Linked DNA regions of Homo sapiens. The protein of the gene in region 1 interacts with the protein of each later gene in a biochemical or structural test. Each region holds a gene or a part of one and is shown in the gene's direction. Other genes may lie near its edges.

Evidence for each region.
Region 2: of the proteins of USP33 (region 1) and USP15, one has a biochemical effect on the other in vitro, tested with the Homo sapiens proteins (one large-scale study listed by BioGRID).
Region 3: the proteins of USP33 (region 1) and HIF1A interact in a biophysical measurement, tested with the Homo sapiens proteins (one large-scale study listed by IntAct).
Region 4: of the proteins of USP33 (region 1) and USP28, one has a biochemical effect on the other in vitro, tested with the Homo sapiens proteins (one large-scale study listed by BioGRID).
Region 5: the proteins of USP33 (region 1) and PRKN form a complex in vitro, tested with the Homo sapiens proteins (one study listed by BioGRID).

Annotation. Positions count from the first base shown.
Region 1 is NC_000001.11:77,723,187-77,728,852, reverse strand, and holds part of USP33 (ubiquitin carboxyl-terminal hydrolase 33), read left to right. Parts: intron 1-140; coding exon 141-558; intron 559-3,090; coding exon 3,091-3,231; intron 3,232-5,409; coding exon 5,410-5,522; intron 5,523-5,666. UniProt on the Homo sapiens protein: Deubiquitinating enzyme involved in various processes such as centrosome duplication, cellular migration and beta-2 adrenergic receptor/ADRB2 recycling.
Region 2 is NC_000012.12:62,263,404-62,269,674, forward strand, and holds part of USP15 (ubiquitin carboxyl-terminal hydrolase 15), read left to right. Parts: intron 1-6,271. UniProt on the Homo sapiens protein: Hydrolase that removes conjugated ubiquitin from target proteins and regulates various pathways such as the TGF-beta receptor signaling, NF-kappa-B and RNF41/NRDP1-PRKN pathways.
Region 3 is NC_000014.9:61,697,328-61,703,598, forward strand, and holds part of HIF1A (hypoxia-inducible factor 1-alpha), read left to right. Parts: intron 1-384; exon of another isoform or gene 385-523; coding exon of another isoform or gene 524-627; intron 628-6,271.
Region 4 is NC_000011.10:113,868,036-113,874,306, reverse strand, and holds part of USP28 (ubiquitin carboxyl-terminal hydrolase 28), read left to right. Parts: intron 1-6,271. UniProt on the Homo sapiens protein: Deubiquitinase involved in DNA damage response checkpoint and MYC proto-oncogene stability. Involved in DNA damage induced apoptosis by specifically deubiquitinating proteins of the DNA damage pathway such as CLSPN.
Region 5 is NC_000006.12:162,439,930-162,446,200, reverse strand, and holds part of PRKN (E3 ubiquitin-protein ligase parkin), read left to right. Parts: intron 1-2,727; coding exon 2,728-2,891; intron 2,892-6,271. UniProt on the Homo sapiens protein: Functions within a multiprotein E3 ubiquitin ligase complex, catalyzing the covalent attachment of ubiquitin moieties onto substrate proteins. Substrates include SYT11 and VDAC1.

The DNA of each region.
Region 1 (5,666 bases):
TATGCTCTCCAAACTGGTATTTGCTCAATATAGTGCTGTACCTTCATATATAAGTTTGTAATGACATTTTGTATATTTTCCCTTACGTTTCTATATACACATGTAATGAAGTGGTTAACATTATGTTGCTGATATATTAGGATGCTCAAGAATTCCTTCGATGTTTAATGGATTTGCTTCATGAAGAATTGAAAGAGCAAGTCATGGAAGTAGAAGAAGATCCGCAAACCATAACCACTGAGGAGACAATGGAAGAAGACAAGAGCCAGTCGGATGTAGATTTTCAGTCTTGTGAATCTTGTAGCAACAGTGATAGAGCAGAAAATGAAAATGGCTCTAGATGCTTTTCTGAAGATAATAATGAAACAACAATGTTAATTCAGGATGATGAAAACAATTCAGAAATGTCAAAGGATTGGCAAAAAGAGAAGATGTGCAATAAGATTAATAAAGTAAATTCTGAAGGCGAATTTGATAAAGATAGAGACTCTATATCTGAAACAGTCGACTTAAACAACCAGGAAACTGTCAAAGTGCAAATACACAGCAGAGCTTCAGGTGACAATTTAGTAGTTTGTTCATGAAAATGATAGTATTTCATTTGTAGACATGGGTGTTTAAATAATTGTTACTTTGGGTATTTCTAATTAGAATTATAGTTTAGCAGTATTTGCATGTGAGTATTAGTCATAAAATTATAGAACCCGAGGATAAAAGGAATTTTTTGGGTCATTTAATTATATAAGAAATTAATCCTCCTTTTGAAGTAAACATTTCATCAGATGTCTTTTGTGTAGTCATGCAGTAATCTAAAAAATTGGGCTCCCCAGAATTTTCTCTTTTATTTTAAGCAAATTATGTTGCGATCCTGGAAAAAAGCAAATAACCCAAATTGCAATTTTCTAATTATATACACTAGTAGATTTAGATTGTTGTCATTGGAGTCACATCAGATGTGTTTTAGTGTAGAAGTTGAATTAACTATAGTGAGCCCTGCTGTGATAGATTATGCCATGATACTAGTCAGTGTTCCTTTGAGAAAGAGCATGTGGCCAAATGAAAGTTGAATTGCTTTGTAATTTATCTCTTCAAGAGTTAACTTATCTTGGCTTAAAATGTGGTATGTAGTTTTCCAAAGCACACAAAATTGGGCCATTAGAGGTTCAAATTATGTGATCTTAAAATAAGTGGCAGACATGTAATGTAAAAAAGTTTATTTTCTGTAATTACTGAAGAGTGAGAGTAACTAAGCAATTTATTTAGGTATTTGAATGAATCCAAAATTTCTTCTTGAAAATATTATTAACTATAGGAAGACTTGTGGTTCACTTGGGTAAAGTGCACAGATGCTTTCTAATCGGGAAGACTAGGAGTGTTAGGCTCCTTAATTATACTGATCTTGTGTAGAAGTTGTTAGTGAATAAATATGTCAGGTATCAGTATTGAAAGACTTAGCTTTGACTGCTGTCCAGGCTTTTCTTGTCAAAAGCCCAGTTAAGCCTGATTAGGGACATACTCATCTTTGATTGCTCTGTAACAGGTTTGTTCTTACACATAGTAACAAGGGGATGACCTAAATCAGGAGTCTGAGCTTTTAGGTGTTTTAAGGGCTTGATGAAAAAAATCTGGCGAAGTCTGTAAGGCACACAAACCTAAAACACTTCATCTCTGGTCCGTTAGAGGAAAAAATTGCCAACTCCCCATCTAAATCTCATTAACTTTATTCCCTTCAGAAAGTCCTAGAGTGAGTTGTTTTTTCACTCCCAATATTATGCAGTCTGATTTAGTCATGATTGAAATATTGAGAAATGCCTGTGTGAAAAATGATTTTGCATTATCTGGAAAAATTTCTGAGTACATCCCCTTTCCAGATCTCTTACGAACAATTCTCTTTTCTTCACTCAAATAGTTACTGAGCACATTCCCTTGCCCTGGAATATGTTAGGCACTAGGAATCCAAAGCAAACAATCAAGGTAGCTCTTATATTTTCTTGATTCATCTTATAATTTAATTCTAAAAAAAGATTCTTTCCTGATGAAGTGGTGTATTTTTTATTATAGTAAGATAAAATAACTTATGATTACTTTATACCTACATTTCTTGATTTTGATTATTATGTTAGTTTGGGAGAATAATCGATTTTTCTTTCACATGGTTTTAGAACTTCTAAAAACCTGTCCTGAATATCTTTTTTTTTTTTTTTCCTGAAACAGGGTCTCATTCTGTCACCCAGGCTGGAGTGCAGTGGCATGATCACATCTCACCACAGCCTCAACCTCCTGGGCTCAAGTGATCCTCCCACCTCAGCCTCTTGAGTAGCCAGCACTACAGGTGTACACCACCATGCCCAGCTAATTTTTAGATTTTTTTGTAGAGATGGGGGTCTCATGATGTTGCGCAGTTGGTCTTGAACTCCTGGGCTCAAGCAGTCTTCCCACCTTGGCCTCCCAGTGTTGGGATTGTAGGCGTTAGCCACCCAGCCTAGCCTCTTTTTTTTTTTTTAATGCTATATTTGGACAAACAAGATCCTCTTTGGCTTTGTATTTCCACTGCTCACTTCCTAAACTGCCTGTAATAGTCGTGTGTTATAAACATTAGTTGGGATTGGGCACGGTGGTTCATGCCTATAATCCCAACACTTTGGGAGGCCAAAGTGGGTGGATCACTTGAGGCCAGGACTTTGAGACCAGCCTGGCCAAAATGGTGAAACCCCATCTCTACTAAAAATACAAAAATGAGGTGGGCCTGGTGGCACATGCCTGTAATCTCAGCTACTTGGGAGGCTGAGGCAGAAGAATCGCTTGAATCCAGGATGCGGAGGTTGCAGTGAGCTGAGATCGCACCTCTGCACTGCAGCCTGGGGGACAGAGGGAGACTCTGTCTCAAAAAAACAAGTAAACAAAAATTAGTTGGATTTCTGGGTAGAAGATTACTGTTATTTTGCTTAGTAAGCACTTTGTTAAGTATTTAACTTGACATTTGTTAATATGATTGTGTTCAAAATATCAAATTAAGAAACCTTTAACATTATTGGACAGTTAGAATAATTTTACTATTTAAGGTAATAATGCAAATTTTAAATCTTACAGAATATATCACTGATGTCCATTCGAATGACCTGTCTACACCACAGATCCTTCCATCAAATGAAGGTGTTAATCCACGTTTATCGGCAAGCCCTCCTAAATCAGGCAATTTGTGGCCAGGATTGGCACCACCACACAAAAAAGGTAAAACGTTTCTCTTATTCAGTCTCTTTTGCTTTGGGTCTTAGTTTAAAATGATGGTTTTGGTACTTGATAATTTAAAGTGTTAATTATGAAATATGATTTGATCTTTTAAAATTGATAGCATAATTTTACATAGACATGATTAAAAATTTTGTGTGTTGGTACTCTGCTTTTAAAATTTTACATACAGTTGAATTCACTTTTTCTTGTATAGAGCTTTATGAATTTTAACACTTGCAGCATAGATTCTTGTTACCACCACCACAAACAGAATACAGAACAGCTCTAACACCCCAAAGAATTCCTGCATAGTACTACTTTGTAATCAGATCATTTCTCTATTCCTATGTTCTGGCACCCTTGATCCTCTTTTCTTATTGTTTTGCCTTTTCCTAGAATGTCATATAAATGAAATCATATAGTATGTAGTCTTTTGATTTTTTTAAATCTTTTCATATGTAGTCTTTTGAAACAGGTTTGCCTCTCAGGATAATGCATTTGAAATTCAGATATGTTACTGCGTGTCTGAATAGTTTGTTCCTTTTACTACCAAGTAATGTTTCTTTTTTTTTGTTTTGTTTTGAGATGGAGTCTCACTGTCGCCCAGGCTGGAGTACAGTGGTGCAATCTTGGCCCACTGCAACCTCTGCCTGCCAGGTTCAAGCAGTTCTCCTGCCTCAGCCTCCCGAGTAGCTGGGACTACAGGTGCACGCCACCATGCCTGGCTAATTTTTTGTATTTTTAGTAGAGATGGGCCATGCTGGTCTCGAACTCCTGACCTTGTGATCTCCCCACCTCTGCCTCCCAAAGTGTTAGAATTACAGGCATGAGCCACCATGCCCGGCCTAATATCTCATTTTTTATGGGTATACCACTGTTTATTTACCTACTGGTGGACTTTTGAATTGTTTCCAATTTTTGGCAATTATGAATAATGTTGCTCTAAAATTTATGTATAGGTTTTTGTAAGAACATTTTTTCATTTGTCTAGGACAAATACCTAGAAGTGGGGTTACTGGGTTTTATGTTTGTTTAATGCTTATAGTTGTATTAAACTGCCAGACTTTTTACCAGAGTGTCTACCATTTAGTATTCCTTCCAGGTATATATGGGAGTTCCAGTATTATGTTTTCTTAGAAGAAAACATAGGAGAAAGTCTTCATGGCCTTGGGTTAGACAAAGAGTTCTTAAAGACATTAAAAGCATGATCCATTAAAGAAAAAAATTAAAGATTTTTGTTGACAAAGGACATTCAGAGAATGGAAAGATAAGGTTGGATGTATTTATAAATCATATAGCTAGCAAAGGACATGTATCCAGAAATATATAAAGAACTCTTAAAAACTTTAAATAATAGAATCTTTTCTTCAAATAAAGCCTTACCTGGAGACAAAAACAAATAAGTGAAAACAGAATTGCTCTCAAGTCAGGATAGGGAGACCGAACCCCTTCTATTTCATCTTTAGCTTGATGATGACTTTCATCATCTTTCCCTCACTTTCTAACCTCTTCCCCTCTTCTTTTGACTTGTAAAACATTTAAGTAAACATCCCAGTGATGAAGCATTTGTGGTTTTGTGCTAATTTAGAATTTTGTTCATTTTCTCATATGTACATTTATGGTGGCCAAGGATCATTTATACTTTAAAAAAAAAAACAGGCTGGGTGCGGTGGCTCACGCCTGTAATCTCAGTACTTTGGGAGGCTGAAGTGGGTGGATCATGAGGTCAGGAGATCGAGACTATCCTGGCTAACATGGTGAAACCCTGTCTCTACTAAAAATACAAAAAAATAGCTGGGCGTGGTGGTGGGCGCCTGTAGTCCCAGCTACTTGGGAGGCTAAGGTAGGAGAATGGCATGAACCCGGGAGGCAGAACTTGGCAGTGAGCCGAGATCGCACCACTGCACTCCAGTGTGGGCAACAGTGCGAGACTCCACCTCAAAACAAAAAAACAAAAAAAAACAACAAATATCTTAAGCCTTGTCTGCTTAGTTTCTTTTATTTTTTTAATACTTATGCTCTTTTGAAGAGTATTTTGAAAATTTTCAACACAGTAATTTTTACAGTTTAAGGATTCTAGAGATCATATACAAGTAAGATTGACAAGACAAAAAAAGATTCCAGAGAAAAATGTTAAAGGAGCTGCTTTGATTTTTTTTTAATGTTTTTCAATCCTAGCTCAGTCTGCATCTCCAAAGAGAAAAAAACAGCACAAGAAATACAGAAGTGTTATTTCAGACATATTTGATGGAACAATCATTAGTTCAGTGCAGTGTCTGACTTGTGACAGGGTGAGTATGAGGGTATTAGAATACACAGAAAATTCGTGTCAAATGATTTTTAAAAATGTGACAAGATGATGTGAAAAGTTTAATTCCTTCTCTTTGCTATTGATGAGCATACATGCATTTATTGTGTTTACATCAACACAAATT
Region 2 (6,271 bases), on another chromosome or scaffold:
TGCAGATAATGACTGTCTCATGGTAACTCGGGTAACTAACTTCCATACCTAGGCAAGTATAAAGATTTATTTCATTCTGTGTAAGTACTACAGTTTCTCTTTATTTGTAAGCAGTGAATGATTTTTATCTAAAAACTGATTTTCTAGAGATGAAAATAAGTTACACAAGTGTGAGATGAAGAGAAACATACTTTATGATGTATTTAGTTCTAGACTTTATATTGAGAAGTAAATCAAAATTAATACGAGAGTAATACCTTTTTAAAAAGCAAGAAGAAGGTAGCACTGATTTGTATAAGGAATAAAGCAGTCTCAAAATGATATTTGTTGATCTGTGTTTCAATTTCAACAAGAGATCAGAAAAACACGAACAAAATTTAGAGTTTAGGAACTATAGGAAAGAGATAAATGAACTAGAATTGTATCGCTTAGGATGAATTAAAAACAATTTTCAGATACATGGTGGTTTCTTCTGATGAGACAAAAAGATAATTTGCTTAAGGTACATATGAGTATTTTAGGAACATATTTAAGGAATGGTAGTTAATGAGTTACAAAGAAAATTATGGGTTATAAAATACTCTCTTTGGAAAAAAAGTTTTTGAAACAGAGTCTCGCTGTGTCGCCCAGGCTAGAGTACAGTGCGTGGTCTCGGCTCACCGCAACCACCTCCAGGGTTCAAGTGATCCTCCCACCTCAGCCTCCGCAGTAGCTGGGCCTGCAGGCACATGCCACCACGCCCAGCTAATTTTTTATTTTTAGTAGAGACAGGGTTTCCCCATGTTACCCGGGTTGGTCTCGAACTCCTGGCCTCAAGTGATCTGCCTACCTTGGCCTCCCAGAGGGCCGGGATTACAGGTGTGAACCACCTGCAAAATTTCTGGCCTGGAAATTTTTAAAGAAATGGGCCTATTATGAGTAAGTAAAACATAACCACAAATCATCCAAAGCACTGCTTCGTTTCCACCATTTTTATTAAATGTTATTCATCTGCCAATCATTTTCAGTAATTTTTATGTGTGATTATGTTAAGTGGTAATGTGTAGTTAACTTTTGCAGTTTAGCAAAACATTGCATGCCATTTTTGTATAAACCCTAATAACTGTAGTAGGTAACTTTACAGAGTAAGTAATTTGTGTGTGAAGTCATTTAAAATCTCTGTGACATTTTCATTTCAATAATTGCCAAAGAATCTGATCAGTGAAGTTTTAGACAAGAGACATTGATTTCAGTTTTTAGAGCTTTCTGTCCATTCCGACTTTTACTTAGAAATCTTTGAGGCTTAATTTTATTTGATCCCTTATGTTCGTGCAACTTTGAAACTAAAAGAAAATAACCTTATACTCACAAATCCCTTAATAATGAAAAGGAACACTATTACTCAACATGAATTTCAAAATATTTAGTGTATACTTAAAGAAATTTTTATATTACTATTACTTTTAAAATTAGTTTCAGTAGTGCCAGGGTGTTTACGACCAGAGTAGGGTATATACTACATCATTTATAGGAAATGAAACTAAAAGGAAAAACTTCTTCAGTCTTGGTAAATTGGTGAAAACAAGGACAGAGATAGTGACCTTAAGGCATGTTTCACATCTTAGATGCTTAAAAATCTAGGAAAGCAACTTTTCTTAATTTAAGCCTTTTTCGTAAGTTTTTAAATGACTTCTGTTAGTGAGTCCAGGGTTAATGTACCCTAATAGTCCAGGAAGGTCCAGAGCTAGTCAATGATTTCGTTTATCTGTTTTGTGAAATTAAGGCTTTTTTTCCTAAATTATACCATTTTCCTGTTAGCACATATAAGGCATTAAATGACCTTTTTGCAAAATGGTTTTGTGACAGTTAACAATTTTGCTTCTACGTAAGTGTAACAAGATAAAATCAGTTTGTCAGGCCATGACCTGTAATATTACATTTAAAAACACTATGTGCCAGGTACTGTTATAAATGCATATTGACTTATTTACTCATCACCATATTACCACAATTCTGGGAATCGGTGTTATTCACATTTGACAAAATAGGAATCATAGGCTCAAAAAGGTTTTCACATAGTGGTATAGCTGGGATTTGAACCCAAGTAGTTTAGGTCTTTGGTTTGTGCCCTTAAAGCACTGTACCACATTGCCTCTGATTTTATTTAAAAAAATTTTTTCTAGAGACAGAGTCTCGCTTCATCACCCAGGCTGGAGTGTAGTGGCATAGTCATAGCTCACTGTAGCTTCAAACTCCTTGGCTCAAGCAATTTTCCTGCCTCAGCCTCTGAAATAGCTGGAACTACAGGTGTGCGCCACCACACCCAGCTAATTTTTAAAGTTTTTGTGGAGACGGGATCTTACTGTGTTGCCTAGACTGGTTTGAAACTCCTGACCTCAAATGATCCTCTGACTTCAGCCTCGCAAGTATTAATAGCTGGGATTACAGGTGTGAACCCCTATGCCCAGCCTCTGTCTCTTATTTTAAAGATTCATTTTTTAAAAAGTAGATTCACTTTAAAAAGAAAAGAACCTATTTTTCTTTTTAAAGGAAGTCTATTTTATATTTAGTAGCAGAATTCTACCATTTGCCTCTTGTGACTGTTCAGTTTAGATATGATAGAACATGTAGGAAATCTTAACACCTTGCTTCTGGATATTAAAACATGCTTAAAGATTGATAGGTGAATAATTGAATGTACAGAGCAAATGTCATTTTGATCCACAAGTACATTCAGACAAAAAAATTTGAGGTCATTTACTATTGAGCTTTTGAATTTTAATTGTCTATCAATAATCATAAGCTCTTATTAGAGATGATATGGCCCCTTCACATATAGTTTTACAGAAATAACCCATGAAGCATATAGTAAGATCTTGTAGGCTATTTTGTTTCGGTACTTGGTCCATATTTTAAAAGTATGGTATTGGTTTACTATAAGCCACAAATACATACGGCTTTCTTCTTGGACTTAAATCCATATGAACCACTCAGCACAGAAAATGCAAATATGAATGCATTATTATGTTCACCAACTGATTTTTTCCCTAGAGATAACTCTTAAAGAATTTTTGAAGTGAAAGAACATTTAAATTAAGATAGTGGAAGATACAATGATAATAAAACAGTCAATTTTGCTATCTTAGTCTTGAATTTATCTTATGATGTGAGTTTAGAGTGATTCTTCTTTTTTTCACTGAAAATCACTTCATTAATAAGTCATGATTATTGACAAAAGTAAATTGAAACCATTGGGCATATTGGTAGGGAAATAAGGGGAAGATAGAGAACAACTGATAAAGGTTGATTATGTGCATTACGAGATTTGATCCTCAAAAGAAGGACCAAAATATATATATTTATATGACTTATAGATGAGGAATCTGAGAGAAATTAATTTGCTTGCTCATAGTTTACTACCAGCGGACATTTATTAAATGCTTAGTCTGTCGCAGCCACTATTTTAAATGCTTTACACTTACATAGCCTTTAAAGTACATGCTCTTATTACACTTCATTTTATCTTTGATGATTTCAGAGCTGGTTTAAATACCTGGTTTATAAAGATTTAAAGTACTAGATACTATCTAATACTAAGAATAGATCCTTAGTATTAAAAATGGTTTTATGCTGTCACTACTCGAATGTAATTCAAACAATATTTCATTAAACCATGGGAATTTCTCTTTTTTCTTAGTCCTTGTATAGAATTTTTCAACAATTACTAAATACTTTTTTTCTTCCCTGAGTAATGTCAGTCTAGCTTGTTTCTTTTAATTTCCTCACTTACCACTGTAATTCACATTCTGTGTCTCATATTCATTCCTCTGAAGCCACTTCGCCAGACTCGTTCTCCCATTTATCCTTTAAACAGGGGAATGTAGATCCTTTAGATTTTATCACCCAGTTTACACAAAAGTCACTATTCAAGAAATCTAGCATAAGCCTAGTAAGTAGCCTCAGTTTTGGATACAGATTAAAATTATTTGAGGGAAGGGTCAAAAATGGCTCCTTACAAAGAAGGAAATAAGTTCCAATTATAATATAAAACAGAAAACCCCTGTAGGATTAACCTGCATTTGATTATGTCTAGACTGCCTTTACTACTTCCATCACTAAGATTCTACATGGTTTCCTTATAGCTCTCCAAAAAGAAAAGAGTAATGATGCCTTTTTTTCCTCCAAGGAATGGAGAACTAAGAATGCTAACTGTCCCTTCCATTCTCCCTTTAGTTTTGAGAAGACCCAGATATTAGCGTGGTAATTCCCCACCATAAGAGAAAATCATTTAGCAGAAGTACCAGTAGCAAGGACTTCTTTGTGAAGGAAGTCAAAGATCTCACAAAGAAGTTCAAGGGTGGCTCTGAGGCCAGGGTATTCTAAGTTTAGAGCCAGTTAAATCAAGACCTGAGAACATTTAGAGACAAAGTTACTTAACTGAAAAGAGCATCAAGTTCCTTGTTCCAGGTAGAAAACACCTGGTAATCTGGATTGATTTCTGTTATTTACCCATATGTTTTTACAGCTTAACAAAGTTTAACAGGTTAGTCAAGAGATTTGCCTTTGATAAAAAGATGGGAAATTTATATTCATACATTTGAATGGATTTCAAGCTGAAGAACTTTTTAATTCTCAGGAGAGATGTAGCTAAGTATTTATATGTACCACATAGTTGTGGCTATGGTTTACAATAACTTATTACTCATTTACTATGTTAAGAGCATTTTAAAAGTTCTCTAGATACAGGTTCCATATATAATGTAATATATTTATTCCAAATATATTACATATATGAAATACATGGTAGTATTCTCATTTTACCAGTACAGAAACTGGGATAGTTAAATGTATATGGTCATAACACTTAGTCAGTGGTAGAGCAGGAGGTCTAACTTAAAGCTTGCATTTTAAATTCTAAGTGTACTGCCTGCCTATGTGTGATAGAGCCATACCCAGATTATGGAAGCAACTTTTTGAAAGACAAATACTTGAAAGTATTAAAATCAAGAAATGACAGCTTTGTAATACTTGTTAAACACATTTTCATTTGTTATTAATATCAAGAGCCTCTAGAATTTTGTGAGTCTTCTTGTTTTAGCCTTGTAGTCTCAGCAGTCTCATTTCTAATTAACATATCTCTGTTTTGATACAGATAGTGTCTCCCATTTCCTGCAAATTATTTGCTTTTTCCTGCTTTTGGGGCCTTTATGCCCCATTTCTGTTGTTTCAGATACTTCTTAAAAATTACTGACTTTCATTTCAAAACCTAGTTCAAAGTCAGTCTCTAAAACCACCTCTAATCTCATCCAAATTTGTGGCCCCTCCATTCTTTGCTTTTAAAATATATATGTATATATAAAACAGCTTTATTGTGATGCTATTCACATACCTTACAATTTGCCCACTTAAAGTGGACAGTTCACTGGGTTTTAGTATACTCGAAAGAGTTGTGCAGCCATGACCATAATCAATTTTGGAATCCAAAAAGGAACCTCATACCCATTAATAGTCACCTCCCATTTCTCTCCCAAACTCCTCTGTTCTAGGCAGCTACTAATCTATTTTCTGTCTTTATATATTTGCCTATTCTGGATATTTTATATAAATGGAATCGTATAGTATGTGCGATTTTTGCATCTTGCTTCTTTTACTTAGCATACATGTTTTCTAGGTTCATGCATGTTATAGCATATATCAATGTTTATTTTTACTGCTGAATGATACAGTCATGAGTCACTTAATGACAAGGATAACTTCTGAGAAATGTATGGTTAGGCAATTTTGTCGTTGTGTGAACATCTTAAGGGGGTACTTACACAAATCTAGATGGGATTGCCTACTACATACCTAGGATGTATTGCCTATTGCTCCTAGGCAAAAAAAACCTGTACAACATGTTACTGTAGTGCATACTGTAGTCAATTCTAATACAATGGTAAGTATATATATATGTGTGTGTGTATAAATATATATATGTGTGTGTGTGTATATATATATATCTAAACATAGAAAAGGTAGAGTAAAAATACAATATTATGATCTTTTTTGTTTTTAGAGACAGGGTCTGGCTCTGTCACCCAGACTGAAATGCAGTAGCCCAATATTGGCTCACATTGCCCTTGATCTCCTGGGCTCAAGCAATTCCACTGCCTCATCCTCCCAATTAGCTAGGACTACAGGCAAGCACCACTGTGTCTATTTTTTATTTTTATTTTTTTGTAGAAATGAGGATCTTGCTGTGTTGCCCAGGCTGGTCTTGAACTCCTGGCCTCAAGCACTCCTCCCACCTTAG
Region 3 (6,271 bases), on another chromosome or scaffold:
AGTGCTTTTGATGAAATGATAAAGCTGCTATATTGTAAACCTAAGGCAGATTACCTCTGTGTAGTGCCAGTTTTCTATCCTTATTATATATTGAATCATACTTAATACAATGCATTAAATTATGTACCACTTTTTTTATATACAGTATCGAACTCATTGTTTTGCCATTCATCCGTTCAGAATATCAGAAGCAGTTTTGAAACGAATTAATAAATTAGCTACTGTTCATCAGCCCCAATTCTAAATAAGCTCTTAGATTTTCCTCAGCCCATCTGTTACTTTCAAAATTTTCTCATTTGAAAACTTGGCAACCTTGGATTGGATGGATTCATATTTCTTAGTATAGAAGTTCTTGATATAACTGAAAAATTAAGTTAAACACTTAATAAGTGGTGGTTACTCAGCACTTTTAGATGCTGTTTATAATAGATGACCTTTTCTAACTAATTTACAGTTTTTTGAAAGATAACTGAGAGGTTGAGGGACGGAGATTTTCTTCAAGCAATTTTTTTTTTCATTTTAAATGAGCTCCCAATGTCGGAGTTTGGAAAACAAATTTGTCTTTTTAAAAGAAGGTCTAGGAAACTCAAAACCTGAAGAATTGGAAGAAATCAGAATAGAAAATGGGTATGGTTATGATACTGTAGATTTAACGCAGGACATTTCATGTTGTTCCTAGTTATAGGGGCTGAACTTATTTAATAGCACGTGCATTTTGATTTTTAGATTTTTAAGGGAATGTCAAGAGAGTAATGATTCTGTTTCAGGCTTCAGGCCAGACTCCTTCAGAGTTTTCCAAAACAAATAATTACTGAATCATTAAAGTAAAATTTCTGAGAATAGATATTCCTTAATTTCCTTCATTAACTTTGGCCATTAAAAGTCAAGAAGCTCTCTCATTTATTAGCAAACTTTTCTCCTTATGATTCTATTTTGATTGTCCTTTTGTTTGAGGAAGCAGCATATGGTGGTTAAGAGCATAGGATCTAGAGGCAGATACCTCTGAGTTAAGGGTCCCAGCCCTTCACTTGTGAGCTTGAGCAAGTTACTGAATGCCTCTGAGCCTCTTTCCTCCTTTTGAAATGATGATAAGAATAGCAGCCATCTGAGCAGTTATTGTAAAGGTTAAATGAGATAATGCTTGTGAAGCACTTAGCCCATTGCAGGAGTCTTGATGACACTGTGTACTTGAAAATAGATGTTACCTGTTAAAATTCTTGTTTAAACTTCCACAACTCTTAAAACTCTTTTTTGCTAGTCCTTCCAGCTGTTTCCTTTAGTTTCTTTTCTGTGTCTTCATGCATCTTTTCTATCTCCTGAAAGTGAAAAGACTAACATTGGATCCAGAGCTTGAAAAGCGTTTTTTTCCTGTTACAATGGGCAAAAGAGTACATCCTTGGGTTATATTGGCACCTAGTATCAGTTATTTTTCTTGAGCATCTGATCTGCTCTCTACTCTAGTGGAGGCCTCCTGCTTCACAATTGCTCACCCCTGTGTTTTCTCCCCAAATAGAATACTGAGTTTACTCTGGACTCTAGAGTCAAACATACACAGTATTCTAGTCTTACTGTTCATTTAAGCAAGATATGTGCAAGACACTGCATTCTTAGTACTGGCAGTAAGTTAAAACATTTTTCGTCTTGATGCCAAAGTTTAGACAATTTTATAAAAATTAACCTTTGTAAAAGATAATGAGTTGATAAAATATTCTCAGTAAAGCAGCTACGTGGTAGAAAAACTGTCCTTTGCTTATGAGTTTCTCCAGAGTTAAGACCATTGGGTTCCATCTGAAGGCAAGACTTCAAGCTTGTCTTACTGGTCTGTTTTGTGGCTCAATTTGTATGAAGTCTATGCACTCTTCCACACGTGTGTATTTACTGAACTATCGAGTTATTTTAGACTGAGAAAGTATTGGAGTTCATTCCTACGGTCCACTGCAGAGCACCTTGTGCAGTTTGGAGAATGTCAACTTTTCTACCTGTTAACTTCCATTGTCTTTACTTTTAACGCCATTGTCTGTGACTCTAATGGTGTCACGGCTCAGGGTTTAGATTTTGTGGTTACATTCTATTCTTGTATGTCAAGAGTGGTGTATAGAAAGCTGAGGGGGATTATTTAGTCTCTTGACTGATTTTTTTTTTTTTTCTGAAGAACTCAGTTTATTATGTTTGGTGGTGAAATAAAAATTGATGTGCATGGATGTTAAAGATTTGGGTTAAATTGTGTGTTCATAGATGCCTTCTCTTAGTATATAATTTTTTAAATTTAGATACTTAAAATACTGTATCCCTTTATCTAAGATTAACATAAGTCTGTTTCTTAACCAGGATAAAAAAATCTAAATTTAAATGTGATGTTGGATGAGTTTCCAATCAAGAAATTGATTTTTTAAACTTTGTGACTAGTTATCCAGTGGGTGGATTTTACCCAGTGTGTGTATGTGTTTTCTGCTTAACTCTGGAAGGTTAGAAAGAGAATTTGAAACTAAGACAAGCCAAGCTTCTTGTTGCTCAGTATTTTTGGTAAAAATATGGTCAGATTGTTTAAATTAACTATAGGCTTTGGAATTTTAAAAATAATTATATCTCTTGGTCTCTTGACACATCAAGAATTAACTGTTTTGTATATGCGTTGAGTATTAATGTTCATGTTTTCTGCAGTAGAAATTTATAAACCCTTATTTATTTGCCAGACATGATCCCTTTAGAGAAATCTAGTATCTAAAACCTGAATTTTTAAAACAAAATTTAAAATTTTTGTTTCATAAAAACAAAAATGTGATTACCTCATGGCTTTTTTCTTATAGCTTTTGATTGTTTTTTAAAATCGTAGTTCAAAAACATTAACCTAAAATTTACCATCTTAACCATTTCTAAGTACTGTTCAGTAGTGTTAAGTATATTCACATTGTGCCACTAACTTCCAGAACTTTTTCATCTTGCAAAGCTGAAATCTTACCCATTAAACAACTCCCAATTTCCCCCTCTCCTCAGCCTCTGGCAACCACCATTTTACTTTCTGTTTCTGCAAATTTAACTACTCTAGATGCCTCATATAAATAGAATTATAGGGTTTTAATATTTTTGTGATGGGCTTATTTCACTTTGTGTAATGTCCTCAAGGTTCATCCATGTTGTAGCATGTGTCAGAATTTCCTTCCTTTTTGAGTCTGAGCAATATTCCATTATATGTTCCATATTTTGTTTCTCCATTCATCCAGCAACGGACACTTGGGTTGCTTCCACATCTTGGTTATTGTGCTGCTCTGAACATGAGTCTGCAAATCTCTCTTTGAAGCTTTCACTTTTTTTGGATACATATCCAGAAGAGGGATGCTGGATCATATGGTAACCCTTTTTAATTTTCAAGGAACCACCATATTGTTTTCTATAGCAGTTGCACCAGTTTACATTCCCACCAACAGTGCACAAGGGTTCCTATTTCTCCACATCCTTCTAAACACTTGTTTTCTTTCTTTCCTTCCTTCTCTTCTCTTTCTTTCTTAGCCATCTAATGTGGCAAAGTGGTAGCCATCTAATATGTTGAAGTGATTGTTTTTAAGGGCTTGTTTGTGGATAATTAACCAGCTGAAAGCTAACTACAGTTTGCCAGTGGAAGCTTTAACTGAAAGGAGAGTAAGTACCTCTAAAAGGAGAATTCAATTTTTCTAGTGACTTAGATTTGTTATGCCAGTACTTTTTCACAGAAACACTTTTTGGGTAAAATAGTGTACACCTGTTCTATTGTTGATAAAGCCCAATTTAATTAGGAAATTTGTTCTCTAAGATTTAAAACAATAATTGAAATAATGTATTTTTATTAAAAACTGTTCCCAAGATGTTAGCTTTTAGCTGTTCTGGTGATCTCAACTGTTATTTATGAGTGTTTCTTTATTTTAAAATTTCACCTTAACCGGTTACAGTTTTAACCATAAAGATTATTTCAACATATGATTTTGAAAATTTATTATCTTGTAAATGGGAAAATGTAGTGATGGAACATAGTTTACTGTATGTAGTTCTTCACTTGTTTGAAAAGTCACAATATATTTAGGCAAATTAATTTAAAAGTGTCTAGTATTTAATATTGCAATTTTCACTCATTAAGGACAGGTCCCCCGTGTTTCCCCCTTTTTTTTTTCCAAGTAGTTTGGGAGGATTTGTTTTTCCAGCTGAAAAATACTATGGTTAAAAATAAGGTTTAAAGGCGAAAGTTGAAGTCTTTGAGGGTTGGGATACGTTTCTGTTCTTAAGAGTCTTGTAAATTCAGATGCTAAGCAAATTTCTTTAAAATGATTTCTACCCTCCCCCTTTCCATTATAAAACTGGATATGTTTCAGTGGACCAAATCCCAAGTAGGCTGAATTTGAAATTTGTGGGCTGGGCGCGGTGGCTCATGCTTGTAATCCCAGTACTTTGGGATGCCGAGGTGGGTGGATCACCTGAGGTCAGGAGTTCGAGACCAGCCTGGCCAACATGGTGAAACCCCATCTCTACTAAAAATACCAAAATTAGCCAGGCGTGGTGGCGGGTGCCTGTAATCCCAGCTACTTAGGAGGCTGAGGCAGGAGAATTGCTTGAACCTGGGAGGCGGAGGTTGCGGTGAGCCAAGATCGCCCCATTGCACTCCAGCCTGGGTGACAGAGCAAGACTGTGTTTCAAAAAAATTAAAAAAGAAATCTGTGGTGTGAATACTGGTACGTGGTGTACACAGTGAGCTCTTAATAAGTATTTGAATTAACAAATGAGACAATGATTGAATAATTGGATGAACAAAGAGAATGCAGGTTTTTAAAAGGTTTCTTTAGAAATATTGTCGGCCCGGCACGGTGGCTCCTGCCTGTAATCCCACCATTTTGGGAGGCCGGGGCAGGTGAATCACCTGAGGTCAGGAGTTCAAGACAAGCCTGACCAACTTGGAGAAACCCCGTCTCTACTAAAAATACAAAAAAAAAAAAAAAAAAATAGCAGGATGTGGTGGCACATGCCTGTAATCCCAGCTACTCGGAGGCTGAGGCAGGAGAATCGCTTGAACCTGGGAAGCAGAGGTTGCAGTGAGCCAAGATCGCGCCACTGCACTCCAGCCTGATGACAGTGTGAGATGCTGTCTCCAAAAAAAAAAAAAAAAAATTAAAAAGAATGTTTTAATTCTTTAGTTCCCTGTCTGAGATTCACTGATTGGTAAGAAGAAAGTTAAAGAATCTCCTTTGACTTTTTTTGATATAGATATTTAAATTCTATTACTTTATAGTAAGGTTGGGGTTTATTTTCTTTGCTTTATAATAGAAGAGCATTGATTATTCTCTTTGCTTTATAATAGAATACCATTTAAATAGGAGTTCCCTGAGTGTGTTTACAATCATTTGATCTGGCTAAACTATTTTAATGTTAATGAAATTTTAAAATTTTGGAGGAAAAAATTTAAAAACTACACAGGTGCACAAAGAAATAAAAATCACCTGCTTTTTCACTATGTAGAGACCATTGTCTACTATTTCTCAATTCTGTGTTACATCTGTATGTTAATAACTGTAGGATTAGGGACTGAGTACTGTTTTTAACCTGCTTTTAAAAAATTTACATCTACATTTTTTCCCATCTAAATAGTGAGGAAGAGTATCAGAATTTTGTAGGCTTGTGGTGATGGTTAAATTAGATAATATTAATGTTGGGTACTTAACATAATATATGGCTCTTAATACTCTCCAGATTTCAGATATAGTCTGTTTTACCATTACTGCCTTTTTATCAAACCTATTCTCAAAAAAGTGAGAAAAGTGCTGAGATTACAGGCGTGAGCCACCATGCCCGGCCTCATGGTTCTTTCTTAATAATAAATTAGAAGAAGTAGAATTACAGGGTCAAAAAGTATCCATTTTAAAGCTTTCAATGTAATTGCCTGTTTATCTTCTAGAAAGTTTGACCTAGTTGTATTTTAGAGTGTCATTTTCTTGAACTTTATCATCATTAAAGTTTTAAATTTGGAACACTGGCAATTTGATAAGTATATTAGGATTCTTCTTATTGCAAGTAGCAAAATACAACTCAATCTAGTTTAAGAGGGGAAAATGTAGTCATTGGCTAACACAATCTAATTTTGGTTTAAGAGACAAATCTAGAGTCTCAAATGATCTCAGAGTGTAATAATCCCTGACTTTTGTCTTGATATTACTTGGCTTGTATACCTTTGCTCTATTTGCATGCTGGCCTTACTCTGCCACTGACAGGCTGTCTGTATGGTGTGGAAGAGGACGGCTAGCATCCCCATACC
Region 4 (6,271 bases), on another chromosome or scaffold:
CTAATTTTTGTATTTTTAGTAGAGTCGGGGTTTCACCATATTGGTCAGGCTGGTCTCAAACTCCCGACTTAAGGTGATTCGCCCGCCTCGGCCTTCCAGAGTGCTGGGATTACAGGCGTGAGCCACCGCGCCCAGTCTGGACGCACTTTTTTTTTTTTTTTTTTTCCAGACGGAGTCTCACTTTGTCGCCCAGGCTGGGGTGCAGTGGCGCGATCTCGGCTCACTGCAACTTCCGTCTCCCGGGTTCAAGCGATTCTCCTGCCTCAGCCTCCCGAGTAGCTGGGACTACAGGCGCGTGCCACCACGCCCAGCTAATTTTTGTATTTTTAGTAGAGATGGGATTTCACTGTGTTGGCCAGGATGGTCTCGGTCTCTTGACCTCATGATCCGCCCGCCTCGGCCTCCCAAAGTGCTGGGATTACAGGCGTGAACCAGGGCGCCCAGCCTGGATGCGCTTTTTAAAACTCATGTAGAAAAAGATACTTCCAGGTCCTGGGCTCCGAAACGAAAGTATCATGCACTGACTTCTAATGGAAATATTGTTAGATGTTCACAAGTGCCTATTGAAATGTGTCAAGATTTTTCTCTGGCTTCAGAGGTCAGTTCTATTTGTTTTTAGCACAGTGATTTAAAAACATGGGAAAATTTTAGTTTGGAGACTATCATATTGATTTAGAGAAGAGACTATTTTAAGGGAGAGAGAAGTCATATTTAAATTTGTCGTGGCTCAGTCATTTAAGACCATGTGCCTATTAATCAGTGGCATCTTCATTTACCTCTGCCGCAGTTTGAGTAGTGACCCTATTTCAGCATTCTCCGTTTGAGACTGTGTGTGAGCTACTTGATGAGCATTTGTATGTAAGTCATAGCTATTTTGGGAAGGCTTGGAACTCCAGTGGCTGTGGCTGGCTGGAGTACTCCGATTCCTGGCCACCTGCAGAGTGATGACATTTACTGTTCTTCCCAGTGATTTGCCCTATACGGAAAGCTGATAAGCTTGGAATGCTTGATAATGTTTGCCCCTTTTATTTTTGCTAATAAAATGCTTCAAGTTACCAGGATAGGTTGAAGGAACTTACAGGAAAAGTACCTTTTGATCTTACAGGAAAGATTTTAATAACTTCTTCCTCATCTTGGTAAGTTTCATGTTAGAATGGATTCTTTTATTTTGAACTCTCTGAGGCATTCTACCTTTCCCTTAAAGGATATTTCATTGTTCTAGTTGAGGAGAGCTATCCTTCCCTGACACTCAGAAGCTATTTAAAGCCTAGACTGCTTCCCTTCCCTTATTGGTCAGTTGTACACAGGACAGACAAAACCCTTTATGGCCTCCCAAGAATTTTAGTGCGAGAAATATGTAGTACTCTTGAAATATGCTATCAGTATGGACTCGAATCTGAGAGTAGACACTTTATGATTTCACTAAATCCTCTAGACTGCAAACTGGTATTCGAATATCTAAAGAGGTTACATAGTGACAGATTCCTGTATTTTAATCAATTCTTGACTTCGATAGCAGCAAAATTTACTGTTATTACAGGAGAAACAACTTGAAGTCAGTTTGGTTCTTATAAACCTGTCATTCTTGGCAGCTGTACTGAGGGTTCACATCACACATTCTTTATGTCAGCTGAAGCCTTATAAAAACCTGCCAGTTTCAGTGAAAATTTAATGCCCTTTTTGCTTTCTCTTGATTTATTGACCTTTCGTTTCCTTTTGTCTCATTAACTGATTTTTAAAACATCAGTAAGTCAGTGATTGGTTCCACAACTCTCATGCCCCTCTGCCCCCAAATGCAAACAGTATTTTTTTTTTTTTTTGAGACGGAGTCTCGCTCTGTTGCCCAGGCTGAAGTGCAGTGGCGCGATCTCTGCTCACTGCAAGCTCCGCCCCCCGGGTTCATGCCATTCTCCAGCCTCAGCCTCCTGAGTAGCTGGGACTACAGGTGCCCACCACCACGCCCGGCTGATGTTTCTGTATTTTTAGTAGAGACGGGGTTTCACAGTGTTCGCCAGGATGGTCTCGATCTCCTGACCTCATGATCCGCCCGCCTCGGTCTGCAAACAGTATTTTTAAGACTTACTGGCAAATAGCATCTTACCAGGCGAGATCTCTCCATGTGTTCTGTTTCATCAAAGAAATTAAATCAATAGTAAAATGAAGCAAGTACTTAACAAGGAAAATAATGCTGGTAATAGTAATAGCTAATGCTAATTGAGCATGCACTATGTGCCAGACTCGGTGCTCAGAACTTAACATAGCATTCTCTCAGTACTTACACAACTCCATGAAGTTTCTATGAGAAGGCTTATACTTGTTAAGTAATTCGTCCAAGGTCACCCAGTGAGGATATGGTACAGTTGGAATTGTATCTAGGCAGTTCTGACCCCAAGAGCCCAAGGCGCCCCTGGTCCTATCTCATAGTTGATGGGCCCATTGCCCTGGATCACAGACTTTCCACTACTCTTATAATGCCTTTTCTAGAACTCTCCTAATGTTTTAAACTTCCAGTCCTCCCTACAGTCTTTCTAAATAGATAATCTTCTTTTCTACTTGACTGAGCTCGCTGATGTCTAAAAAGAGCTCCCTGCCTTCTGTTTTGTCCCCCTCTCCCTACGCCATCTCATCTCTTTTCTCTTATTTCAGTGGAAAAGGTTCCCTTCCTTTTTCCCCCTTTCATTTCTTAGAGATAAACCTAGATTAATGGTTTTTACTAGGGAGAGATTTTGTAATCTAGGAAGCATTTGGCAATGTCTGGAGACTTTGATTGTGACTCTGGAGGGAGGATGCTACTGGAATGTAGTGCGTAGAAGCCGGGAATGCTGCTAAACATCCTGCAGTGTACAGGAGTAAGCCCCTCTAAACAGAGTTATGTGTAAATTGTATAAAATAGTGCTGAGCTTGACAAACTCTGATCTAGATGATGTCTCTCTTCTCTTTCTATTATGTCCCTTCTCCTTAGTCCTAGTCTAACCCCCAGACACCTTCACTGTCTTCTCCCTTGCTACTCACATTATGGTCCACAGACCAGCAGCATTCACATCCCCTAGGATTTAGACATGCAGAAAGTTGAGTGTGCTAGAGCCAGCTTGCTCTGCCTCTCCAGCTGATTTTGTACATCTCTTTCCAGCTCTGTGTTCAATGACCTCGTGTTGATAACTGTGCCAAGGTGGGAATATTTATACCAAGGAAACAAGCATACACTGCCAATCAGCATACCACTGCCTGTACCCCCACTCTAGACCTATTCAATCAGTTTCTGCCTTTTGACAAGATTCTTGGGTGATTCATTTGCATATTACATTTTGAATTTGCATTTTCCATTTTACCGTGCACTTGTCCTCTATCTTGAAACCAAATAACAACAACAAAAGTGTCTATTGCCCAGTCCAGCTGTTGTCTCCACCTTCCTCCTCTTGTTTGCTTTTGGAACAAAGTTTCTAACCCCACCTGTTTCATTTCTAAAACATTTTTCCAGTGACAATGTATTCAGACTCAATATACAAAACTTGGAAAAGACAGACTTGAGCAAGACTAACTCTTAGCTGACAGGAGATTGAGGAAGGTTGGTTCCCAGATTCTGCTACAGAGCTTAAGGTGGCAATAACAGCTTCTGCAAAAGCCAAATAATGAGATGGCCGTGTGGACCAGTCTGGGCTCCAGCAAATGGCTGATTGTTCAGAGGCCTGCAGAGGGACTGACTAGGCAGCAGCAGGTTAGGTTGAAAGGCAGTGAGTGGTTTTATGTAATCAGAATCTGCTCAGCAGCCTACTTTGCCAAGGCAGGATCTCTCCCTCTGTCACCCAGACTGGGGTGCAGCGATGTGATTATAGCTCACTTTGGCCTTGACCTCCTAGGCTCAAGCGATCCTCCCACCTCAGCCTCCTGAGTAGCTGGGACCACAGGCGTGCATCACCGCACTTGGCTGTTTTTTTAATTTTTTATAGAGACGAGGTCTTGCTATGTTGCCCAGGCTGGTCTTGAACTCCTGGGCTCAAGCAGTCCTCCTGCCTTGGCCTCCCAAAGTGTTGGGATTACAGGCATGAGCCACCACACCTGGCCCCCTCATACTTTTATTATTTTATGCTTTTATGATCCCTCATTACCACTTTTTTGCTGTTACTTTTTTCTTGTTTTGTTTTTTGAGACGGAGTTTCGCTCTTGTTGCCCAGGGTGGAGTGCATTGGCACGATCTTGGCTCACTGCATCCTCCGCCTCCTGGGTTCAAGTGATTCTCCTGCCTCAGCCTCCCGAGTGGCTGGGATTACAGGCATGCACCACCATGCCCAGCTAATTTTGTATTTTTAGTAGAGACAGGGTTTCTCCATGTTTGTCAGGTTGGTCTTGAACTCCTGACCCCAGGTGATCTGCCCACCTCAGCCTCCCAAAGTGCTGGGATTACAGGCGTGAACACCTGGCTCCAAATCTACATTTCTAATCCTGAGTTGCAAATGACTTCTATACTCTGTTTCCCAGTGCTTTTTGAACAGGTCTGCTTGAATATCAACCTCCTTGGCTATAAACGTTTGCTTCATACTTATTTTCCCAGGGTTGTTATACTAGGCATGGGAATGTACACTTGTATTACTCGTGTCTGCCATATGCTATGTACCACCCTAAGCACTTTTCCATACATTTTTATTTACAAAAACCCAGCAAGGTGTGAACTATTACCCTATTACTGATGAGGAAACTGAGATGTCTTGTTTGTTTTTTGAGATAGGGTTTCACTCTGTCACCCAAGCTGGAGTGTGGTGACACCGTCAAGGCTCACTGCAGCCTTGACCACCCAGACCCAAGCAATCCTCAGACACTTGAGTAGCTGGGACCACAGGTATGCACCACCACACCTGGCTACTTTTGTTTTATTTTATTTTTTGAGACGGACCGCAGTCTGTTGCCCAGGATGGAGTACAGTGGCGTGAGATCAGCTCACTGTAACCCCCGCCTTCCGGGTTCTATTGATTCTTCTGCCTCTGCCTCCCAAGTAGCTGGGATTACAGGCACATGCCACCACGCCTAATTTTTGTATTTTTAGTAGAGACGGGGTTTCACCATGTTGGCCAGGCTGGTCTTGAACACCTGACCTCCGGTGATCCGTCTGCCTTGGCCTCCCAAAGTGCTGGGATTATAGGCGTGAGCCACCGAACCCAGCCTGTGGTTAATTTTAAAAGTTTTTTTAGCAATGGGGTCTCTCTGTGTTGCCCAGGCTGGTCTCAAACTTATGAACCAAGTCATCCTGCCTCAGCCTCCAAAAGTGCTGGGATTACAGGCATGAGCCACCGTGCCTGACCTCAGATGTTAGTATGCCTTATAAGGGCCTCATATGAGATTTATTTTATTTATTCCTTTTCTTTCTTTTGTCTTTTTTTTTTTTTTTTGAGACATGGTCTTACTCTGTCACCTAGGCTGGAGTAGTGCAGTGGCTCTATCATGGCTCACTGCAGCCTCAACCTCCTGGGCCCAAGCAATTCTCCTACCTCAGCCTACAGAGTAGCTGGAACTACAGACATGTGCCACCATGCCTAGCTAATATTTTTAGTTTTTGTAGAGATGGGGGGTCTCTTTATGTTGCCCAGGCTGGTTTTGAACTCCCGCGCTCCAGTGATCCTCCCGCCTGAGCCTCCCAAAGTTTTGGGATTACAGGCGTGAACCATGGTACCTATCTCTTTTTTTCTTTATTCGTATGAGATTTTAAACTGAAGTCTGTTTGCTTCTATCTTACAGATGAGAAATGCAGCTTATGACCATGATTGAATTATAAGTAGCAGAGCTGTGACTTCAAGCCATTCTGACTTGAAGCATAACATTTCTCCGACTTTAGTACAAGCCTTTCTAAAACCAAAGTTTCTGACTTACCACTTGACTATGTAGCACTTTAATAATTTTAATAACTTTTCATTGAACCCTCATAGGCACTCTATGAAATAAAATTTAGTATGAGCAGGAAGTAGAATTTGCAAAGTGACACAGCAAGTAAGTGATAAAACCAAAACTATAACACAGGATATCAGTATTTTTACTGTAAACTCTAGAGGAGTTTAGTTGAACAGGCAAGTCCCAGTATTTTTCATTTCTATTGCATTTCTTCATTTTGCTAACAATTTATTTGCAGTACTTCCTTTGATAGTCATACAGGGCTGTCAAAGCTTTTGGTGTACTTCATTTTCCATTCTGGAAACTGATGCTGAGGAAGATTGAGATTTGCCAGGAGGCTGATGTGTGCTGGAGTCTGGGCTGCATGGCACTATTTCCAGCGTCTAGGCTTTCT
Region 5 (6,271 bases), on another chromosome or scaffold:
TTCTGATGAATTGGTTGTCTTATGGTCTCTGATCTGAGGATGCTGTGAAGATACCTCAGGGCTTCCAATACATTTTTATTTCTTCCCCTCTATTTTCAAAGGCGTCAAATGAAATTGACTTAAAAGTGTATCAAAAGCACCTTTTCCTCCGTAATTAGTATTTTTCATGAATTTTCTTTATTTGGAGCACTTTGTCACTGGTCGTCCTTCCTTTTTCTAAACACTTTCCGTGCTGGTCAGAGATGTCAGGCCTTTGTTCTTGTGGTGCCATCTGGACCACCTGCCCTCACTGGAGTGTCACGTCTGTTTTGGGGCCCATGTTGTTCATGGTTATTGTTCACGGTCCTTTGCTCTTAGCTCCTCACTGGAGCTTTTATTTATTTGTACTGCACACCCATATAGGGAATATCTGATTTATGTCATAAAGCCTTTTTATTGTTATCTTTTTAATCATGAGGGATAGAAATGTGGACTTTTTTTTTTTTTTTTTTTTTTTTTTTTTTTTTTTTTTAGACAAGGTCTCTGTCACCCAGGGTGACTGAGTGCAATGGCACAACCATAGCTCACTGAAACCTCTAATTCCTGGGCTTACACAGTCATCCCACCTCAGCCTCCAGAGTAGCTGGGACTGCAAGTGCACGCCACCACGCCCTGCTGATTGTTTAAAAAAATTTTTTGTAGAGATGGGGTCTCACTTTGTTGCCCAGGCTGGTCTTGAACTTCTGGGCTCAAGTCATCCTTGCCCCTTGGCCTCCCAAAGTGTTAGGATTACAGGCTTGAGCCATTGTGCCTGGCCTGGACTTTTCTTCTGAGATGGTTTCAGGAAGCCTATTTTAGTAGAAATGGAATGAGCTTTAGAGTTAGATTGAAATAAATTTGAAACCCAGTTCCATTAGAAAGTAATTAATGTCCTTAGAAAAGTGGGTCCCATTCCCTGTGCCTTCGTTTATTATTCTGTAAAATAAGGATAATAATAGGGACCTGACCAGATCACTGGGAGGCTTAGAAAAACCATATGAGAGCACAATGTCTGGCACATAGTAAGTGCCTGATTATTATTGGCATTGTAATGATTATTATAATTATGATGAGGTGGGTCATCTCACATTGGTATTGAGAAATAATTAGCTATAGTACTACATTTAAAGGAAACACAGCAGTAAATAAACAATAACACTTGCCCTTGAGGAGTTTGTTATCTTTTAAAGAAGGCAAAATGTATATCAAAAACAGCTAAATGTCCATTATTTTTAAATGTTACAAGACGATAGTTTTAAATACTATAAATATTATTTAATGAACCGAATAATATGGTCTGTGGTTTATTTATGTTTTCAAGATAAGGGAACTGAGACCTAAAGAGGGAGGTTAATAGATTGACCCCTAGCATCCTAAGCCAATTAAAGGAGTCTGTGGGGATTTTTCATAGGTCTTCCTAATGCTTCAGGATGTTCTTTTAACCCGTGTGCTATCCTGCTTCCATGAGGAATGTGGTGAATATTAAAAGACATATATAGTAAATGCCACTGGTGCCCTGAATAAGGAAGATCAGGCTTTTGCAGTAGCTGATAGCCAGAAGCTTCTTGGGGGAGGTCACATTTGAAGTGGGCCATGGAGGTAGGCAGGATTTCAATAGGAAGAGGAGAAGGAGGGAGGTCATGAATAAAAGCAAGAAGTTGTGTGCAGCAGTTTTTTGTGATTTTTTTTTTTCTGGGAGCATTTAGTTTAAAAGAGTACACATGGAGATTAATGAAGAAAATGCTGGAATGTAGGTTTGTGCTAGATGAAAGGGATCTTGGAGTCTTTCCTCACCAGCCGACAGTGTGAGACTTAAAGGATTTGAGTGGTGTGACATAGCTCTGTATTAATAAGGCTCATTTTGCAGAACTATGTAGGGCCTTTTGGAGGTGATGGCGTGGATCAAGACTCCAGTTGGGGGCTATTATGAGACTCTAGAAAAGATGTGATGAGAGCGTGACTTCAAGCAGTGAGAGAAAGAATGGAAAGTAAAGGGCAGTGAGAGACGCTGAAGAGGTGGGACAGCAGGTGCAGTGAGAAGACGGCATGCAGACAGACAGACTAGAGGATGCAGCCTGGGTCTCACGGGGAACAGTGGCTTCAATAAGACAAATGGTGTCACTAGTGTCTCCACCCCCTCCCTGCCAAAAAGAGGGCAAATAATTGTCTTCATAGACCCAGTGGAGCATTTTGGCCAGGACCACCCAAGTCTAGGGCTCTGAGCCATAGCCCCGAGTGGGTCTTCACTCTGGTCTATAGAGCAGCTTAGATTTTTTTCCATTGCTATACCTTGAGTGCTAACACATCGCCTCCTATTTTTATTAAGAGGGTCACTGTGGAGGGAGTGTGAGTGTGTACATGCTGTCAGAGCTGAGTCTTTTCAATAAACTCATGGGACTCTTTCAATTCCAATCAAGCAAGTGTCCTGCTCAAGTCTCTCTGTTTCCCAGGATGGATGTCAAAGGGAGAATGCAATTTTGGTTTGCAGGTCACTGACGAATATATGAAAGGGAAATCTCGTGGGTAACTAACTCTGTTTTTCCCAAATATTGCTCTATAGCATTAAGTTTTTTGTTGTAAGTGAAAGAAAATATATACCATTCACTGAAGGGCTGCGAGGGGTAAATCGGTTGAGAAATGTTGCTATCACCATTTAAGGGCTTCGAGTGATGCTCACTTTCTCTTCTCCCTTCCAATTTCCTTGGTCAGTGTTTGTCAGGTTCAACTCCAGCCATGGTTTCCCAGTGGAGGTCGATTCTGACACCAGCATCTTCCAGCTCAAGGAGGTGGTTGCTAAGCGACAGGGGGTTCCGGCTGACCAGTTGCGTGTGATTTTCGCAGGGAAGGAGCTGAGGAATGACTGGACTGTGCAGGTGAGTCTCCCTTGGCGGCCGTTCTTGGGATGCCGCCAGCTCCATTGCTCATGCCGCCTGCGCTGCCAATCTGACATTCATGCCTGAGATCTAATAGAATAAATAGTGCCTGGGGATTCCTTGAACTTTACTCCACACTGCTTCATTAATTCTGACCTTCTTAATTATGCATTAAAACAGCAAGCAGGAAAGATTGGAAGAACAACTGCGAGTGAGAAAGAGAGAGAGAAAGAACACACGAGCTAGGCTTAGTGAATAAATGTCTACTGACTACAGGAGCAGCAAGGCACAATTTCTGTGTCTGTTCAATTTCTACCTTACTTATTCCATTTGAATCTTAACGAAGAAGGATTCGAATAAATTGTTCCCAATCAGGCTGCTCAGTCCCTGCACTGTGAGGAATTTGTAACCCAATTGTGACCCCTGGAGGTTAGTGAGGGCTGCTGCTATGCTGCGCTAGAGGAGGTGTGGGCTCCGGGGCCCATTGGCAACTAGCTTTGGGCACTCCTTGGCCAGGACCAGAATCGCACAGTTCTGCAGCTGATGGGGAAGGAAGCCTGGAGCACAACAACAGTATACCTTTGCATGAATTTCTCCAAGGTTCAGTAACATTGTCCCTGGAAATAGGCCCCTGCAACGTAATAAGTGTGAACGATGCTCTCTTCTCTCCTGGCCCCAGCAGAGCTTCTGGCAGCCCACTGCTCCTAGCCCCATGAAAGCCCTACACACATGTCATTCGGATTGGTGATTTTTGTAGGAATTAGGGGGACTGGTGAGGTGACTGATAATACCACCATCACCTAGAACTAGAGACCCGTCCTTTGTTGGGGAAACTCGCAAATACAACTCAACATTTGTTGACGCTATTCTTTGTGAATGCAAGAAAGACGAAACGCTTTCTGGGAATGGTCCCTGTGACTGTGAAGGACCCTGCAGATGTATGTTCCCCTTTTCTTAACCAGCATCAATTAATTGCACTCAGGTTTACAGCTGTGTGGGTATCACTGCTCCGCGCAGGGGGGCTCCTGGGTCAGAGTACACAAAGTCCGTCCTTGTATCTGCATCCTTTCCCTGTCTCTTGTGGGTAACGATATTTATGGCTTTGTAAAATGCTCTCAGAATTTGGGTATACAAAGAAGCTACAGAAATGCAAATTGTTCCTGTCATTCTGCATTGCATCTCCTGCTGATGGTGTTGAGGCACATACTCGTTGTGCACAAACTGCTGGCCTCTGCTTTCAGGCAATTTGGTTTTATAAGGGAAGTGCATGTGCTAAAAAGGGTTTTGATTTTTTTTTTTTCTATTTCAGTCAACTAAAAAGATTTTCACTGTATCTGCCAACCTCTAAATCCAAGGATGTTTCCTTCACAAATAAATAATTTTAAAACAGCTCCTTGAATCAAAACATTTTATATTGCCAAAACCTTCAGGTTCTAAACTGCCATTTGTGCTGATTCATAAAACAATTAGCGATTTCATATGTAGTTAGACTAATTGCTTCAGATGATTGACTTTGCAAACATATATGCCTAAGACATGTGTTGATTTATGAGTCTATTTTGACAAACACTTCTTAAGCACTTCCAATGTCCTAGGCTTCTCAGGGGATCCAAAAGAGAGACCTAACTCAGCCCCTGTTTTCATGGAGACTGCTCTTTATTTATGAGCCCTAAAACCGAGAGAAATATTAGATTGAACCATATGGGATTGCCATTTTTACAGGTTCAACAATTTCATGTTGTTCAACCTAATAGCTATAATATAAGAATATGAAACATAACTGCCGTATCGCACCTGAAAATATTATGAAGTTTTAAAGGTGGAGAAAACACATCTGGTTGGAAGTCACCAGGAAGAACTTCTTGGATGAATTGAGTTGAGGTAGGATTCTGTAGATGGAGGAATAGGGGAATGAGCATAGAGAATGCTTGCCAAAAAGGATGGGTTCTTGTTCTTCTAGAACCTGAAGAGAGATGTTGAAGATTGGACAAAAAATAAAATATGGGCTATATTTCACATAACCTTGACTAACTTGGCATTGAAGTTTCATTGGTGGGGAACTAGAGAAAAATGTCATGCCATAGAAGGAAATGGGAAGTCTGAAGACCCGGTTTGGTTGGGGGAAGGATGCTGCATTGTTCCAACATGATGGGAGTTGATGCCAGCTGAGTACGTGTGTTTGGAGATGCCTAGCTGGCTGTTGAGAACTTGTGTCTGAGGACACTGAAAAAGAAAGGTTCATACTTATGGAACTTCTATTAAATCACAGTTAAATGATTTAGGTGCCGAGAAGTTGGCAAACTTTGTTCATAGAAGAGTTTCACTGTAAAGACTAGGAAGTTACACATGTAATTGCAAATTGATGGCTATGTTTTCTTTAAGTGTACAACTGGCAGAATTTTAGCATCCTAGATATTCTTGTATAATCTTAGAACATATGTTTACAACTATTTAGTCAATATCATTTAGTTACCCATTATCATTACAGGTGCTATATTTCACAGTATAAGCACAAAATATCTAATAATAAGTTGCTGCTGAGAAAAAGAAGATGGACCTTCCATATGAGCTACTTAATGCTTCCATTAATGAATGTTAAATATACACCTTGGTGTCCTGAAGAGAAGAAGAGATGGCTGGGGTGGTGTCTATGCTTGCTGGGTGTCTTCCTCCTGGTTTCGTATTCTTTATCATAGGTGATATGAACATATATATTAGCTTATCATGCAAAATGAGATATTGTGAGTATAAAAGAAGACCCTGTCAATAATTATTCCAGGACAAAATTATATGTTGGGAGTGTCCTAGGAAAACTGAGGCAATGGTCACCCCACATACTGAGCAGTATCTCTCACACTTAGTTTCACCTTCTTTGAGGAGGAAATTAGTTTTAGTGCCTCACCTCAGGTACTTTGGGGAACTATAGCTTGAGACCACAGTCTTATGAAATGTCATAATTTTAAAAAGCGAGTTTGTCTATTTAACTGGCAAAGGGTATTTGTAAGATTATAATAGAATTGATGTCACATCTAAAAAATTTTCATAGAATTTTCAGTTCTGGGAGAGCATATCCACAGGCCACTTAGAGAAGCACTGTTAGAGTATAGTTATTTTCATTACACACTCATCTGTTCAGTTTTGTTATTGGCAAGACTTTAAGAACTTTAAAAAATTAAAGGAAAATGGAAAAAATATAGACATTGAAAACGAATGATCTGGCACAGATTTTGCTTCTGGGAAGCTGGAGTAGGCATACTTTTCCCTCTTCCTCCCAGCAACTACACTAAAAAGCCTAGACATTGCATATTGTACAGTTGACTCGTGGAGTCATGGAGTTAGGGGTGCCAACCGCTATGTAGACAAAACTCATGTATACTTTT